Homo sapiens: one gene and its partners. The protein of the gene in region 1 interacts with the protein of each later gene in a biochemical or structural test. Each region holds a gene or a part of one and is shown on either strand. Other genes may lie near its edges.

The links.
Region 2: the proteins of USP28 (region 1) and CDC73 form a complex in vitro, tested with the Homo sapiens proteins (one study listed by BioGRID).
Region 3: the proteins of USP28 (region 1) and SENP1 form a complex in vitro, tested with the Homo sapiens proteins (one study listed by BioGRID).

What each region holds. Positions count from the first base shown.
Region 1 is NC_000011.10:113,872,547-113,879,570, reverse strand, and holds the start of USP28 (ubiquitin carboxyl-terminal hydrolase 28), read left to right. Parts: upstream 1-3,998; 5' UTR 3,999-4,069; coding exon 4,070-4,126; intron 4,127-4,691; exon of another isoform or gene 4,692-5,006; coding exon of another isoform or gene 5,007-5,054; intron 5,055-7,024. UniProt on the Homo sapiens protein: Deubiquitinase involved in DNA damage response checkpoint and MYC proto-oncogene stability. Involved in DNA damage induced apoptosis by specifically deubiquitinating proteins of the DNA damage pathway such as CLSPN.
Region 2 is NC_000001.11:193,251,018-193,255,337, reverse strand, and holds the end of CDC73 (parafibromin), read right to left. Parts: 3' UTR 523-4,320; downstream 1-522.
Region 3 is NC_000012.12:48,068,058-48,075,092, reverse strand, and holds part of SENP1 (sentrin-specific protease 1), read left to right. Parts: intron 1-299; coding exon 300-403; intron 404-485; coding exon 486-769; intron 770-3,371; coding exon 3,372-3,426; intron 3,427-7,035. UniProt on the Homo sapiens protein: Protease that catalyzes two essential functions in the SUMO pathway.

The DNA.
Region 1 (7,024 bases):
GGCAGCATGGAAGGGAAATGTGGGGTCGGAGCCCCCACACAGAGTCCCTAATGGGGCACTGCCTAGTGGAGCTGTGAGAAGAGGGTCACTGTCCTCCAGAGCCCAGAATGGTGGGTCCACCGACAGCTTGCACTGTGTGCCCGGAAAAGCTGCAGACACTCAATGCCAGCCCATGAAAGCAGCCAAGAGGGAGACTGTACCCTGCAAAGCCACAGGGGCAGAGCTGCCCAAGACCATGGGAACCCACCTTTTGCATCAGTGTGACCTGGATGTGAGAGCTGGAGTCAAAGGAGATCATTTTAGAGCTTTACAATTTGACGGCCTCGCTGGATTTTGGACTTCCTTGGGCCTTGTAACCCCTTTGTTTTGGCCAATTTCTCCCATTGGGAACTGCTGTATTTACCCAATACCTGTACCCCCATTGTATCTAGGAAATAACTAGCTTGCTTTTAATTTTACAGGTTCATAGGCAGAAAGGACTTGCCTTGTCTCAGATGAGACTTTGGACTGCGGACTTTTGGGTTAATGCTGAAATGAGTTAAGACTTTGAGAGGCTGTTGGGAAGGCATGATTGCTTTTGAAATGTGAGGACCTGAGATTTTGAGGGGCCAGAGGTGGAATGATATGGTTTGGCCGTGCCCTCACCCAAATCTCAACTTGAATTTTATCTCCCAGAATTCCCACGTGTTTGTGGGTGGTACGCATGGGGAGGTAATTGAATCATGAGGGCCGGTCTTCCCGTGCTATTTTTGTGATTGTGAATAAGTCTCATGAGATCCAACGGGTTTATCAGAGGTTTCCACTTTTGCTTCTTCCTCATTTTCTCTTGCTGCTGCCATGTAAGAAGAGCCTTTCACCTCCCGCCATGATTCTGAGGCCTCCCCAGCCATGTGGAACTGTGAGTCCAATTAAACCTCTTTCTTCTGTAAATTGCCCAGTCTTGGATATGTCTTCATCAGCAGCGTGAAAACGGACTAATACTTTTTTTTTTTTTTTGGTATTTCCTGTATAGATGGAGTTTTGCCACATTGCCCAGGGTAGTCTCCAACTCCTGAGCTCATGTGATCTGCCCACCTCAGCCTCCTAAACTGCTGGGATTACAGGCATGAACCTGTGATTGGCCTAGGTCTGCTGGTCTTTTAAGAAAATTTTAATGAAGGTTGGGCACGGTGGCTCATGCCTGTAATCCCAGCACTTTGGGAGGCAGAGGCAGGTGGATCACAAGGTTAAGAGTTGGAGACCAGCCTGGCCAACATGGTGAAACCCTGTCTCTACTAAAAATTAGCCAGGCGTGGTGGTGCATGCCTTAGTCCCAGGGGAGTCTGAGGCGCCTGTAGTCCCTCGGGAGTCTGAGGCAGGAGAGCTGCTTGAACCCGGGAGGCAGAGGTTTCAGGGAGCTGAGATCACACCACTGCACTCCAGCCTGGGCGACAGAACGATACCCCGTCTCAAAAAAAAAAAAAAAAAAAGAAAATTTTAATGAATAAGGGTAATATGGTTTGGCTCTGGGTCCCCACCCAAATCTCATGTCGAATTGTATTCCCACTTGCCAGGGGAGGGACCTGGTGGGACATGATTAGATTATGGGGTGGATTTCCCCCATGCATTTCTCATGATAGTGAGTTCTTATGAGATCTTTGTGTGTGTGTGTGTGCGGGGGGTCGGGGGGGACACTTCTTTTGTTCTATCTCTCCTACTCTGCCATGGTGAGACATGCCTGCTTCCCCTTTGCCTTCCACCACGATTGTACGTTTCCTGAGGCCTCCCAGTCTTGCTTCCTGTTATGCCCCTGAGTCAAACCTCTTTTCTTCATAACTTACCCAGGCTCAGGTAATTCTTTATGGCAGTGTGAGAACAGACTAATACAAAGGATTATAGGTTTTGACAGCACTTACACACAATAAACATGCAATTTCCTAAAATGAATGTGTAAAGACAAATAAGGGTTGCTCCAGAGACATGGTAAATAAAGCATTCTAGCAGTGTAGAAATAGGCAATGCTGTAAATAAGCTAGACTCAGAAATCAATGTGGGCTGGGCGTGGTGACTCATGTCTGTAATCCCCAAATTTTGGGAGGCCAAGGCAGGAGGATTGCTTGAGACCAGAAGTTTGAGACCATCCTGGGCAACACAGTGAGATCCCATCTCCATAAAAAAGACACAAAAATTAGTTGGGCATGGCACATGCATGAAGTCCCTGCTGCTTCAGAGGCTGAGGCAGTTGGACTGCTTGAGCCCAGGAATTCAAGGCTGCAGTGAGCCATGATCTCACTACTGTATTTCAGTCTGGGTGACAGAGTGAGACCCTGTCTCAAAAAAAAAAAAAAAAAAAAAGAAAACCAGCATCAACCTGAAATCAACCTGTTCTACAGTGACACCCAGGTTGAGGCCATAAACACAGTCACTCATGAGGAAAGGAAAAATGGCAGAGCCACATACATAAAATGTCCTACTACTCGCAGACACAAACACAGTCAGCCTGTTGAATGTGGAAGATTCCAAGTTAGTATCACCGCAGCCATGCCAATCTGCCAGTTAATCTGCCAGGGGAAGCGGATCCCTGTATCTCCAGGTGGTGGAAGTTGCAGGAGTCCTAGTTCAGGCCTCAGAGAGTAATCTGGCCTCTCCTGGGAGCTGCACCTGACCTGTACCTGTTTCCTTTTGTCAAAAACTGCGCCCGCATGCAGACTAGGGAGGCCTGCAGGTGAAACATAACAATCCCAGCGACAACAATGCCAGGAGTATAGGAAAGGCCACCGTCCATGTTAAATTCACACTTAAAAGTGTAGCTTGAGAGTCAGACCAGACCAGGGCAAGGGTGTAGGTGCTACTCTTAAAAGACGCGCTTCCACACTCAGCCTCTACGCAGATTTGGGACACCCAGCAGCCTGTCAAGTGGGTTTGCCATCATAACACATTTGTATCTTAAATGTGAAACATGGTTCAGTAATCACAATTCCCACACAGTTGTTGAAAATACAATTCAGGCCTGGCGCGGTGGCTCACGCCTATAATCCCAGCATTATGGAAGGCCGAGACGGGCGGATCACCTGAGGTCAGGAATTCGAGGCCAGCCTGGGCAACATGGTGAAACCCTGGGTGTGGTACAGCGTGCCTGTAATCCCAGCTACTCAGGAGAATCGCTTGAACCCAGGAGGCGGAAGTTGCAGTGAGCCGAGACCGTGCGGCTGCACTCCAGCTTGAGGGGACAGAGTGAGACTCCGTCTCAAAAAAAAAGAAAAAAAAAAAAACAAACCGAAACCAACCAAACAAAAAACAATTCAATAGGAGCACCTGGTCTTTTAACATGAAATCGTAAATATCTGGCTCAAACGTAACAAAGTAACACAAAATTTTAGTTTGAACTTCTGAAAATCGAAAATGGAAAAACTGCAATTTTCCTTATCATGCCCAGGTTAAGAGCATCAGGGTTAAGGGCACCAAGCGGGACACCCATGAACGGAGGCTTTGGTCCGTTTGGTTAGCTTTAGACAAGCGACTGCATTCATCCTCCTTCTCTCCTTAAAGATGGTGAACACTTCTTCATGTCATTGGAGTTGGAAATGGCTACAAAGCCTGATGGGAAATCCTTTATTCCACGGTCATTCGGCAGTTTCCCACGGCGGGGGAACAGTTTTAACTCGCCCGTGGGGAGGGTGGAGCCGGAGGTCAGTCCTACAAATGAGGTTTTGAGGGCAGAGAGCGGAGAAGACTCAGGAACGCGGCTCCCAGGATTCGCAAACCCAGTTCCCGGACACTGGCAGCGCGGCCCGCAGCCTCCACCGGCTGTGAAGCTGACCAACAGCGACAGGCGGGGCCGGGATCACGTGACCGACGTCTGGTCAGCCGGGCGTGCGCGGGAGCACGCAGAACTGTTCGGCCCCGGGCCGCGCGCCTTGCGTGCGCGCGCATGCCGGGGGCGGGGCATGTGGGCCAAGCCTCCGGCGCGCGCTGCGGGCGGGGGCGGGACGGAGCGGGGTGGAGGGCGGGGGCGGGGCCTAGTCCTGAGAGGCTGGGCCGGCGGCGGCTGCGGCGGGAGACCGGTGACCCGCGGCTGGGCGCCTCGGCCATGACTGCGGAGCTGCAGCAGGACGACGCGGCCGGCGCGGCAGACGGCCACGGCTCGGTGGGCTCCGCGGCGGCGAGCGGGAGCTGGGGGCGGGCTCCAGGCCCTGAGGGGAGCGTGCGGGGCCTGCAGGGCTGCGGGTTGCGGGCTGCGGAGGGCGCCCCGGCCGGGCGGGACAGGGGGTGCGCCCGCCAGCGTGGGTGAGAAGGCCAAGGGCTCTGCGGGGCTCGGGCCGCGGAGATTGAGGACTGCATCTTCGCGTCCGTGGGCGAGCTGAAGTTGTAGGGGGATTTCCAGATTTTGGAAAACCAAATATAAAGGGCTGGACGTGGGGTTCTCCGCCGCAGGGATCAGTAAGGTGAGCCCTCCTGGGCCCCGTCCGGGGTGAGAAACTTCCGAAAGCGGCAGCGTTGGTTGGTTTTGTTTTGCTTTGACTTTTAAATCAGTTTTATGGCGGCGTTTTTAAAAGGTTAAAGCAGACCGAAGTTATCTCACTTAAAGTCCGGAATTAATCACCGTCTTCTATAAGACCAGGGGTCCCAGTTACCACCACTTCCCTCCCTCCCAACCCGGCTTTAAAAACAAAACAGCGCAGCCTCCCCAATTATTGCCTTCATCGCTCTAGATTTTTAAGGAGGGGGAGGAGCTGCGTGATGAATAGAAAGTCTACTGATGATGATCTCCTGTTCCCAATGTCTAAGAAGATTGAAATCAATATAAGGACTTCTGATCTAAGAATCTGGTGAGAGTGAAAGAACCCTGGTTTGAGAGAAAAGCTAATGTCTGTATGAAGAAACTTGGGAAGAGGGCAATTTGAGCATGTCTTCTAGTGTTACTTCGGAATGTTATAACTTAACACCACCTCCTCACCCCTCAAGTACTGCACTTTTTCAAGAGAAAACGGGAAATCTGTGCCAGTTGTTCAAATACGAGTTTGGAGATGAGAAACTATATTTGTCGTACAAAGCTGGCAGACAGATACCCTCAGGTGAGAATCCTTTTATACCTTTTTACTCTTTTGTCTGGAAGGCCAGTAGTATTTAGCATGGAGACACTTTTTTTTTTTTTTTTTTTTTTTTTTCGACAGAGTCTCCCTCTGTTGCCTAGGCTGGAGTGCTGTGGCGCGATGTCGGCTCACTGCATCCTCCGCCTCACCCTCCTGAGTAGCTGGTATTACAGGTGCTTGCCACCGGCCCGGCTAATTTTTGTATTTTTAGTAGAGTCGGGGTTTCACCATATTGGTCAGGCTGGTCTCAAACTCCCGACTTAAGGTGATTCGCCCGCCTCGGCCTTCCAGAGTGCTGGGATTACAGGCGTGAGCCACCGCGCCCAGTCTGGACGCACTTTTTTTTTTTTTTTTTTTCCAGACGGAGTCTCACTTTGTCGCCCAGGCTGGGGTGCAGTGGCGCGATCTCGGCTCACTGCAACTTCCGTCTCCCGGGTTCAAGCGATTCTCCTGCCTCAGCCTCCCGAGTAGCTGGGACTACAGGCGCGTGCCACCACGCCCAGCTAATTTTTGTATTTTTAGTAGAGATGGGATTTCACTGTGTTGGCCAGGATGGTCTCGGTCTCTTGACCTCATGATCCGCCCGCCTCGGCCTCCCAAAGTGCTGGGATTACAGGCGTGAACCAGGGCGCCCAGCCTGGATGCGCTTTTTAAAACTCATGTAGAAAAAGATACTTCCAGGTCCTGGGCTCCGAAACGAAAGTATCATGCACTGACTTCTAATGGAAATATTGTTAGATGTTCACAAGTGCCTATTGAAATGTGTCAAGATTTTTCTCTGGCTTCAGAGGTCAGTTCTATTTGTTTTTAGCACAGTGATTTAAAAACATGGGAAAATTTTAGTTTGGAGACTATCATATTGATTTAGAGAAGAGACTATTTTAAGGGAGAGAGAAGTCATATTTAAATTTGTCGTGGCTCAGTCATTTAAGACCATGTGCCTATTAATCAGTGGCATCTTCATTTACCTCTGCCGCAGTTTGAGTAGTGACCCTATTTCAGCATTCTCCGTTTGAGACTGTGTGTGAGCTACTTGATGAGCATTTGTATGTAAGTCATAGCTATTTTGGGAAGGCTTGGAACTCCAGTGGCTGTGGCTGGCTGGAGTACTCCGATTCCTGGCCACCTGCAGAGTGATGACATTTACTGTTCTTCCCAGTGATTTGCCCTATACGGAAAGCTGATAAGCTTGGAATGCTTGATAATGTTTGCCCCTTTTATTTTTGCTAATAAAATGCTTCAAGTTACCAGGATAGGTTGAAGGAACTTACAGGAAAAGTACCTTTTGATCTTACAGGAAAGATTTTAATAACTTCTTCCTCATCTTGGTAAGTTTCATGTTAGAATGGATTCTTTTATTTTGAACTCTCTGAGGCATTCTACCTTTCCCTTAAAGGATATTTCATTGTTCTAGTTGAGGAGAGCTATCCTTCCCTGACACTCAGAAGCTATTTAAAGCCTAGACTGCTTCCCTTCCCTTATTGGTCAGTTGTACACAGGACAGACAAAACCCTTTATGGCCTCCCAAGAATTTTAGTGCGAGAAATATGTAGTACTCTTGAAATATGCTATCAGTATGGACTCGAATCTGAGAGTAGACACTTTATGATTTCACTAAATCCTCTAGACTGCAAACTGGTATTCGAATATCTAAAGAGGTTACATAGTGACAGATTCCTGTATTTTAATCAATTCTTGACTTCGATAGCAGCAAAATTTACTGTTATTACAGGAGAAACAACTTGAAGTCAGTTTGGTTCTTATAAACCTGTCATTCTTGGCAGCTGTACTGAGGGTTCACATCACACATTCTTTATGTCAGCTGAAGCCTTATAAAAACCTGCCAGTTTCAGTGAAAATTTAATGCCCTTTTTGCTTTCTCTTGATTTATTGACCTTTCGTTTCCTTTTGTCTCATTAACTGATTTTTAAAACATCAGTAAGTCAGTGATT
Region 2 (4,320 bases), on another chromosome or scaffold:
ATGGTGAAACTCTGTCTCCACTAAAAAATACAAATATAGCCAGGTGTGGTGGTGCACACCCATAATCCCAGCTACTCGGGAGGCTGAGGCAGGAGAACTGCATGAACCCAGGAGGTGGAGGCTGCAGTGAGCCAAGATCGCAGCACTGCACTCCAGCCTGGGTGACAGAGTGAGACTCCATCTCAAAAACAAACAAAGAAAAACAAACAGAATGAAAAATAAAACAAAGAAAACAAAACAAAGAAAAACAAAAAGAATGAGTAGAATATTTTATGAGTTCACATGGCACCCAAACTTAAACTCTAATTAAGAACCACTTTGAGAAACAGCACCAACTGGTGGTTAAAAAATCACTTACAGCACTTACTCTATGTACATGAACTGCATTACTTATGAAGCATTATAATCAAACTCAGGTTAAATAGCTTTTAGTAAATTTAAAGTGGACAGAAATGGAATTCAATGGCAAACAAAATCCTCAGACAGATCATTTGCTTAAATTCGACATAGCATGAACCCCACTTTTTGAATTTTGGCAATAAAACTAGTTTTATTTCATTAGCTTTACTCATATAAAAATGCTTCCCACTTTTCAGTAAATGGCACATATTTATAACTTCCAAGATGCCCTTATAAAGATTACCTAAAATAATACACAGAAACCCAAAACACATAAAAAACCTGCAAGTATTATCTATTATATACTAACTAAATATAAATCTTTATACATCTATTATACATTTTCAATTTTTCCTTAGTTATTATTCCAACAGATATAAACAATGCTGGGATCAACATACTTGCAAATGTGCCAACAAATATGCCAGAATATATAGGACATGGCATTTCAAAATTCCCACTCCAATTCTTAACTTAAGTCAACTTTAGTCATTTCTCCACTTTTTATTTCTATCATTAGAATAGCTGGGTGAATCTCAAACACAAGTGAATAAATAGTAGAAATTCAGTCAAGTAATATTAAGGCTAATGTAATTAAATTTTCATGTTGTACTTTTTTAAAGAAACAGAGCAGCTGCCAACTTTTCAGCTGAGAACAAATTTCTATAGTTCTTATTTTATAAATTATTTCTCAGCATTCTATATGGACTTTAACCAGACAAACCAATAATTTCTTTATTAAGAATCTTTTTTTAAAAAGTATGTGTATATGAAGGGCTTTAATAAACTTCCAAAAAAATTAAAAATAAAAAATTTAAAAAGACTTATCTTACTCATAATTTTGCATTTAAACAAGCAATTTCAAAACACAAAGTTTACAGCTACTTTCTAAGCCATTAATTTGACTAGCTTTTATAAATAATTGTTGTATTTGTAATATTATAAAATATACTGCTAGTCTCAAAAAATTTTATATACTTTAGTTCAACAAATATTCCTCCCCACCCCTCCAAAAAAGAACAATGTAATCACTTTAATTTTTGTTAGCAGTCAGAAAAATTTTTATTTAGGAAAAATATTCCCTCAATATTTATTAGATAATGAATCTTATTTAAATGAATAGTTTACTTTTACTTTTCTGTGTAGACCAATTTAAAAGTATGCCACTTTCCTTTCATAAGCAAACTGTATTTGTCTCATTCTACATGGCAGATCAAAAATTAATACTTCTTTCTGCCTTAAAAATTATGAGATTTTCCTCATTATGAATTAGTTGTTTTTATATGGATTACTGTTGTGCTGCTAAAAACAAATGTTAGTAAAAGTTATGGAGACATGGGAAAAAAACAAACTATAATACTAGTTAATAATGAAATACATTAAACATTGTTTAAATATTAAACAGTAAAATACTCCTATATTAAATAAATAATTAAAAATTGCATTTGTCAATGGGAATATAGGCCAATACCACCAATAAAAGGGATGGTCTAGTGCAAAGGGTGGCCACAAAACAACAACAACAACAAAAAATCAAAAACCACACATACATACAGAAAAGAAGGAAGAGGAAACACATTTAATACTGGTACTGTTTTCAATAACAAATTAAACCAGTGATTCTGAATCCTTCCTGCACATTCAAATTACCTGGAGAACTTTAAAAAAAATACTGATGACCAGGTCTTGTCTCAAATTACATGAAAATGGGAATCAAGATTCAGGCATGGATATTTTTAAAAACTCTCCAAATGATTCTAAAATGCAGTCAGGGTTGAGAGCAACTGATTGAAACCTACATATTTCTTACTGTTCCTTGACTGAGAAGAATGTCCTATAAATATAGAAATAGAACTTTTTCCTTTACAGGTTGGGCATACAAGGGTATCTCCAGTTAGCAGTAACTTATGGAGGGGTAAGTCAAGTTATTAATTTATACTTCATTTCCATTAAAATATCTACTTATACCTCTCTTCATTCCCTGTAATTCTGTACTCTCAAACTCCAAGACCAAGAAGAGTCGAACTACACTTTTATAATAAATTTGTTACACTGAAAATACATTATTCATTCATGCATGTAAGTATTTACTGAATGCCTACTATGTGCAAGGCACTGTGTTAAGTACTGCTATATAGGACCATGTCATGGGAGAATAAATGGGAGTGGCTGAAAATTTTTGTTTTTTAGAATAAACAGCTAAAAAATAATGGAATGAAATTAATTACATGGACCTAAATAAGAGACTAAATTGTCAAAGAGGAAAAGAAAAAGAGGTGCTTATACTAAGGGTCTGATTTTAAGATAGATGGTTATAGCCTATTTGTCCTTTTCCTAATGTTCCTTTACAGTATTTCCATAAGCCTTTGAATATACATAAGGCAAATTCAAAATAGAAAAATAAACCTCATTCAAAGTAGATGTTCCTAATTTTAACCATATTCTGTCTCAAGTAAAGTTCATAAATAAGTACAAATACCAAAAATCTTTATGGGAAGGTAGTTCATACTGACTTGTAGTAGTCTTGACAAGTAATCTTACATAAAAATATTACAGATTCTGGTCCTTGACTATTTCATCATGGAGAAAGTTTACACAACATGTAATTTATTTTGGAAATATATTTATATGCTAAGAAAGCCTAATGTAAACAAATTTGAGTTTTCTTTTATCTTTAAGGAAAGAAGACGCTAAAAAGGGAGGAAAATAGGGGTAGAATCTGTTCAAACCTTGTTAAGTATGCTAAAATCTAGTAATTTAAAATGCTGACTGTTCCCTTCTGAAGAGCCTTGTAAATATCATGTGAATAAATATCTTTTCTAGTTACTAGTGGTATGAACTATGTGATCACTTAAAAAATAATAACTTCTCATTTTTGTGACAGTGTTAAATTTCATTAAGAAGCTAGATAATGTCAGCTTAATACCTATGAAAGGCCTAAACGTTCACCAAAAATATGTTAACCTAGGAGAAAATTGCTGGGAATAAAAACAGAGAAAAAAATGACATAAGACTGTGATCAGCAAAAATTCCAATGGCAAAAACACTTTAGGAAAGTAAAGCTTCCTAGTTGCCTTTAAGGAAAAAAAAAAAACAAAGTGAAATCAAGGTTCAAGGCAAATGGTCACTTGATGTACCTTGGATGCAACATTTTGTCTGAAGTAGAGAAATAGTAAAATATTTCACTAAGTTAAAATATAGTTTTTATATTTTATACCATATTGAATACAGACATAAAAATACCAGTGTTTTTCTCTTGTTTCTTTTCAGACAATTAAGCAAATGTTTTCTTTGGTGCCTGGGAGTTTATCAATATTTAGGGATAATGGAAGATAAGAACTCCAAGACTGACAAGCCTAAAATAGAAGATTCAAAATCCTATACCATAAAAATTACAATCAAAAGTGGACTAAAGAGAAAAGGAGCTTAAAGTTATACTGCAATAGGGCTGATACATATTCTTCCCCCAAATCATACTCTGGCTCCCAAAATAAAAAATACTACAGCCTATTGTGGTTTTAATCTGTGTTTTGAGATTTTTTTCAAATGGAAAGATATTACAGATAGAAACACATCATTCTAGGTTTCAAAATCACCAAAGTCAGTGAGAAGAATGTACATTCATTTAAATGTAATCATTTGTAAATAAAGAAATCTTGAAAAGGCTGAACAGTTCAATCAAATTGAAGAATTGATCTAGATTTTTCATTATTCTTTTTAAATAATGAGTAAGTGTAGATATAGTGTACATACAAGTTGACATTCTGATTCATTCAAAATAGTCACATCCCTTTGCTTGGTTTTGGATGTTCCAGAGACTAAAATTTAATACCATTCATAACATAGTATTTTCAGTAAAAAGAATTATAGAGCAATGAAAAATCAGAAGATGGCTCAGAGAGCCTTATAATCTCTAAATAT
Region 3 (7,035 bases), on another chromosome or scaffold:
AGGCATGTGCCACTACAGCCAGTTGGTTTTTTTTTTTAAGTTTTCTTTTGTAGAGTTGGGGTCTCACTATGTTGACTGGGCTGGTTTTGAACTTCTAGCCTCAAATGATCCTCCCCGCTTGTCCTCCCAAAGTGCTGGAATTACAGGCATGAGCCACTGTGTTAGGCCCATAATTCTTAATTATCTTAAGGATTCTGCCTGAGCTTTGGCAGAGCTAGGATTCTGTTTACATGCTAGTTTGAGAAATACTTGCCTTATTGGATGTGTTTAAACTGTTTTTTTTTTTTGTTTTCTTATAGACAGTTCAAGAAGAAGAAAGAGAGATTTACAGACAGCTGCTACAGATGGTCACAGGGAAACAGTTTACTATAGCCAAACCCACCACACATTTTCCTTTACACCTGTGAGTCACAGAAGCATATTTCAGATGAATTTAATTCTACAATTTATTACTTGATATTGAAACAATATTCTTCTCTTGCTAGGTCTCGATGTCTTAGTTCCAGTAAAAATACTTTGAAAGACTCACTGTTTAAAAATGGAAACTCTTGTGCATCTCAGATCATTGGCTCTGATACTTCATCATCTGGATCTGCCAGCATTTTAACTAACCAGGAACAGCTGTCCCACAGTGTATATTCCCTATCTTCTTATACCCCAGATGTTGCATTTGGATCCAAAGATTCTGGTACTCTTCATCATCCCCATCATCACCACTCTGTTCCACATCAGCCAGATAACTTAGCAGCTTCAAATACACAATCTGAAGGTAAACATGGTATCATATAACTACATTTTTAGTCCTAATAGCCAATTAACTGTTCATTAGCTCATTACAGGCAACATTGTAATATACATATAAATAAATGAGCATACCGAATCTGAAAATATGAAGTCCGAAATGTTCCAAAATCTGAAACTTTTTGAATACCAACATGATACTCAGGAAATGCTCAGTGGAGCATTTGGGATTTTGGATGTTTGGATTTGGGATGCTCAAATTGTATAATGCAAATATTCAAAAGTCCAAAAAATCCAAAATTTGAAACTCCTGGTCCCAACCATTTTGGATAAGGGATACTGAACTTGTAAGACATGTACTTACATACTTTAAATACATATGATTCAGTTAACCATGCTGTGAGTAAACTAAATCCACAAATAGGATATTCTTTTTTTCTTACCTCAAGATGCAAATGATTTGATACATTTTATTTAAACAACTTCCTAAGTACAGGCTAGAGTCAAAGTATATATACTCAGCCCAATTGCTTCAGCACTTTCTCTGTTTCTATGACTTTACAGTGGTAAGTAAGAATTCTGAAGTTGTAGGAGTTTTGAAACATCAGATAAATACTGAAGCTTAAGTACTTAGGTTTGTGCGTTTTAGAATGATTGTCAGCATTGGAAGCAAAAAGTTTTCTACGTAACTTTCAACTAACTGAAATATTCACTCTCTTTGCATTCCAGTTAATTAAGGTTTTGTCGTGATAGGTTTGTTTCCTTAATTTCCCCCTTCTTTAGGTATGTATTATGTATCAATTTATGGTATGTACTTAGGTATGCAACTTAAAACAAGTTATAGGTTAAATGGTTAAACATCAGGGATTTTTTGATAGATGGAGCACTAGTCTTTCCCCTCCTTTCTCAGGTTGTTTGAGGTTTTTTTTTTAATCTATTTGTACTTTGTGAAAATTCTCACTCAGGATTAAACTTTTTGGTAGCATCATTGTATAGCTACACATATCCATGAAGACTCTTGTTATATTTTGTGAGGTGATGTACTGAGAACTGTAAAGGAAAAAAAAAAGCCAAAAAACCCAAACTCCTTTAACCTCAGAAACATACATTGTGTTGCAGATACTTAGATACAACTAAGTTGAAACAAATATACTACATTGCACTGTTTAATTACTTTCCTTGTACCATGTAATAAATACTCTGAGGTTCTAATGACAGCACTTTAGAAGAACATGATTCCTGCCTTTGAGTAGTATTCAACAGAGAAAATACATAATAGAATGATAAAATTTGTACTTTTTAGACACCTCCTGGGGTGCTATTTCCTTCCCTGTCCCCCTTCCCTCCTTCTTCCAGTTTCTTTCCCTCTTCCATTCCCCCACCCCTTCTTTCACCTAATTCAGTCGCATTGTAGATCATGAACTACAGTAGTTCCCCCTTATCTGTGGGGGGAGGATATGTTCCAAGACCCGCCCCCCACCAGTGGATGCTTGAAACCATGGAGAGTATACTATATATACCATACCCTATATACATCATGTTTTTTCCTATACATACATACTAATGATTATAAATTAGGTGCAGTAAGAGATCAACAATAATAACTAATAACAAAAATTATAACAATATACTGTAATGAAGATGTTACTTTTTTCTTATTAAATCAAAAACTTTAACCTTTTCACTTAAAGGAAGTAGTGTTTTTTGTTTTTGTTTTTGTTTTTGTTTGTTTTTGAGACTGAGTGTCACTCTGTTGCTCAGGCTGGAGTACAGTGGGACCATCTTGGTTCACTGCAACCTCGCATGTCCTGGGTTCAAGCGATTCTGCTGCCTCAGCCTCCTGAGTAGCTGGGATTACAGGTGTGAGCCATTATGCCCAGCTAATTTTTGTATTCTTAGCAGAGACAGGTTTCACCATGTTGGCCAGGCTGGGGAAGCACTTTTTACGGCTTCTCTTTGGCATACCTGAATTGCCAACATCATTACTTTTGCCTTTTGGGGACATTATTAAGTAAGGGTTACTGAACACAAGCACTGCTATACTGAGACAGTCAATTGGATGACTGAGGTGACTACTAAATGACAGGTGGTGCATACAACATGGATATGCTGGACAAAGGGATGATTTCATGCCTGAAATAGAGCTGGATAGAGATTTTTATCACATTACTTGGAATGGCATGCAATTTAAAATTTACTAATTATTTCTGGAATTTTCCATTTAATATATTTGGACCGCAGTTAACTATGCGTAACTGAAACCATAGAAACCAAAATTGCAGATAGAGGACTACCATGAAGACTTTTAAGGAATCCTGCCATGTTCTTGTTCTCCTGAAACAGACAGGAAGCACAGGGAGCAAGTGCAGCCTAGGAGGAAATTCTGAAGGGCAAATATGTTTGTTATTTCCCAGGGATTTTCTTATTTGTGAAGCAAATTCTTCACTAAGACCTATTTCTGTTCTCAGTGACAATGGACTTGCCTCTCTCTCTCTCCCATCTAACCTTTGTTCTTATGTTATTTTTGTGGAAATAAAATATAGCAAAGTATGGGAACTTAAACTAAGATATCTAGAAAGTATAACTTTGTGGAGTTTTATTACTAATGAAATGCTCTTGTGTTTCTTTAGGATCAGACTCTGTGATTTTACTGAAAGTGAAAGATTCCCAGACTCCAACTCCCAGGTAAACTTTGGAAAAAGCTTGTTCTTTATTAATTAATTAATATATCTTTTTGAGACGGAGTCTCGCTCTGTTGCCCAGGCTGGAGTGTAGTGGCGCGATCTTGGTTCACTGCAACCTCCACCTCCCTGGTTCAAGCAATTCTTCTGCCTCAGCCTCCCGAGTAGCTAGGATTACAGGCGCCCGCCACCACGCCCAGCTAATTTTTGTATTTTTAGTAGAGATGGGGTTTTGCTGTGTTGGCCAGGCTGGTCTCGAACTCCTGACCTCAAGTGATCCACCTGCCTCGGCCTCCCAAAGTGCTGGGATTACAGGCGTGAGCCACCATGCCTGGCCTAAAAGTTTCTTCTTAACATATTGTTTTCCCTTTCTTTAATCACAGCTTTTTCACTAAAAGTTACATAATGTAAAACTACCTCAATTCAGACCTTTCTCACGTATTACTTGAATTATTTTAGTGGCTTTATAATTGTTCTTCCTTCAGCCTCTATTTTGTTCTTCATTCCGTCTTCCACCATACCATGTTCTTGAAACAATTTTTCTGCCTTGCTCTTTTTTCATTTGTTTTTGTTTTTGTTTTTGTTTTGAGACAGGGTCTTGCTCTGTCACCCAGGCAAGAGTGCAGTGGCACAATCATGGCTCACTGGAGCTTTGAACTCCTGGGCTCAAGTGATCCTCTTGCCTCAGCTGGGACCACATATGCATGCCACCATACTTGGCTAACTTTTAAATTTTTCTTTTGTAGAGACGGGATCTTGCTATGTTGACCAGGCTGGTTTTGTACTCCTAGCCTCAAGCGATCCTCCTAACTTGGCCTTCCAAAGTGCTGGGATCGTAGGTGTGAGCCACTGCACCCGGCCTGCTGTGTTCTTTAGTCCATCTTCCATGCTGCAATCAGAGTGATCTTTCAGAATTCATGTCTGATCATTCATTAAAGGGGTTTAATGATTATTTGTTAACCTCCTTCAAGGGTGGTTTATCAGACATTGAATTAAGCTCAGGCTCCTTACTATGGTATACAAAGCACTTCTTTCACAAGCCTCACTTTCTCACTTTTAACAAATATTTACTGAGAGCCTACTGTGTGCCAGGTACTAGTATAAATATTGAGGATAATAGGGAACAATGTGAAGTCCCTATTCTCAAGGAGCTTGCATTCTACTTGAGGGGAAGGATGAAGGACAATGTGAAGTCCCTATGCTCAAGGAGCTTGCATTCTACTTGAGGGGAAGGATAAACAAATGTATATGCCTTGTGATAAGTGCTATGAAGAAAATTGAAGCAGGGTAATATATAGAGTAGGATTGGGAGGATACTATTTGTATAGGGTGGTCATGGAAAGTCTCTGATAAAGTGACTTGAGCAGAGACATGATGGAGGTAAGAGGGAGCCATATGGAAATATGGGACTCTTTCATGTGTTTTTATAAGCTGGACTATTTTCAGTTTGCAAATACAATAAGCATTTCTTACCTTCACATTCAGTGTTCTTTTTGCCTGGAATGTCCTCCGTACCTCAACTTTGTCTGTCAGTAGTGTTTTATCTTTTAGGTCTCAACTCACATGTGAACTTCTGCATGAAACTTTACTTATCTGGAGGTATCAAATACTTCTTCCTCTGTAATACAGTAATAGTAATCCATAGTAACCATTACTATGATTGCTATGCCTTTGCCATATATGGCTTTGGGAATTCAATTGCTAGGATGAGAATAATATCAGTTTTCCGTTGAGAAGATTAAGAGTAATGAAATATTCTTTCTCATCTCAGTTCCCCTACTTCTTTGCAGCTCCCCATATGTTCTAAGCTTTAAATATTTCTTAAAATTCTCTATTTGTTAAGTCTTTTGGGGAGACTTCATAGTTTGGATTCTTTATTTCTTACATCTTTTTTGGAGTCAGATCTGCCTTCTGATCTTGGGTTGGAAAAGGCTTCATGTAGCTTTGGACAAGTTACTCTTATGAACCTCAGTTTCCTTATCAATAAAATGCCAGTATTGATACCTTACACTTAATTGTGAAGATTAACTTACAGATAAAACACTTATTTTTATAAGTGCTTCACATGAAATGCCACAAGATGCATGCAACTTTCTTGGGAAGAAGTTGATCTCTCAGGTAAAGAGTTGATCTCAGTTCCTTAATGGTTCTTTACTAAGACTGCCTTTCCTTTACGGAGGATTTCCCCTAGTGATGACTAAAGAATGAGATGGCAGGAGAAATGGTCTGTTGGGTAAGGCTGTTTGAGCAATGCTCTTTGTCAAAGTTGGTGCCTACTCTGCTGAGGCTTGGTTTATTGGCTCTCTACTCTTAATTCTCCACTACTGCCTCTCAGTTAAGTTCCAGTAATGAAGATCTGCTTTTATTTCCCAGAATATGCTATGCTGTGTCATACCTCTTTGCCTTTATACATTCTGATCCTTCTGTCTGGATGTCCCTTTCTCTCTCTGTCTACTTGGTAAGCTCTTATTTTGCTTCCTTTTCTTTCTTTCTTTTTTTTTTTTTTTTTTTTTTTTTTGTGACAGAGTCTTGCTCTATCATCCAGGCTGGAGTGCAGTGGCACAATCTCTGCTCACTGCAACCTCCGCCTCCCGGGTTCAAGTGATTCTCGTGCCTTACCCTCCAGGGTAGCTGGGATTACAGGCATATGCCACCACACCCAGCTAATTTTTGTATTTTTAGTGGAGATTGGGTTTCACCATGTTGGCCAAGCTGGTCTCGAACTCCTGACCTCCGGTGTTCCACCCACCTCAGCCTCCCAAAGTGCTGGGATTACAGGCATGAGCCACTGTGCCTGGCCTTAATTTTGCTTTTCAAAATCTCATCCAGGTGTTATTTTTTTTTTCTCAGAAGATTTCTTTGACTTTGCCAGATAATGTTAGTTTTTCCCTCCATCCTTCTACCTTGTTTGTTACTAATACTTTTGTATCTGTCACCCATTGCTGGTCATAGTGCTTGGCATATGATGGGTGCTCAGTAAATAAATCTTTGTTAAACAAATGAATTTCCTAGATAGCCTGAAGTGCTCTCTTGAGTAGCCCAAGTACTTATTCCTCCCCCGCTTTTTTTTAATGCTTTCATCTATTGAAAGGCACAGTCGAAAGAACACAGTCTTTGGAATTGGACAGATAAGATTTCTAATCCTAGCCTTTCAAGAGAAATTATCTTTTTGAACCTCCTTTTTCATTTCTGTACAGTATGAGTAATAATTCTTTTTTATATATTATGTTGAGGTTTAAATAGTATAGGGATTTTCATTAGGCTTAACTAATACATAAAACATCTAGAGCAGAGTTTTACATGTAGAGCACTAAGTATGTGCTCAAAAACATTTGCAGTTATTATTACTATATGCCTCAATTATATGAGAAATAATGCATCTCTTTGGAAAAGCAGATTTTCCCTGCATTTTGTTTTCCGGAGCCAGTGGATACCTTGATCCATTGAAGAAAACTGCTTGTCCCTACATTACTTGTTTATTCAAGAAATACTATATGGCTGGGCATGGTGGCTCATGCCTGTAATCCTAGCACTTTGGGAAGGCCAAGGTGGATGGATCACCGGAGGTCATGAGTTCGAGACCAGCCTGGCCAACATGGTGAAACCTCGTCTC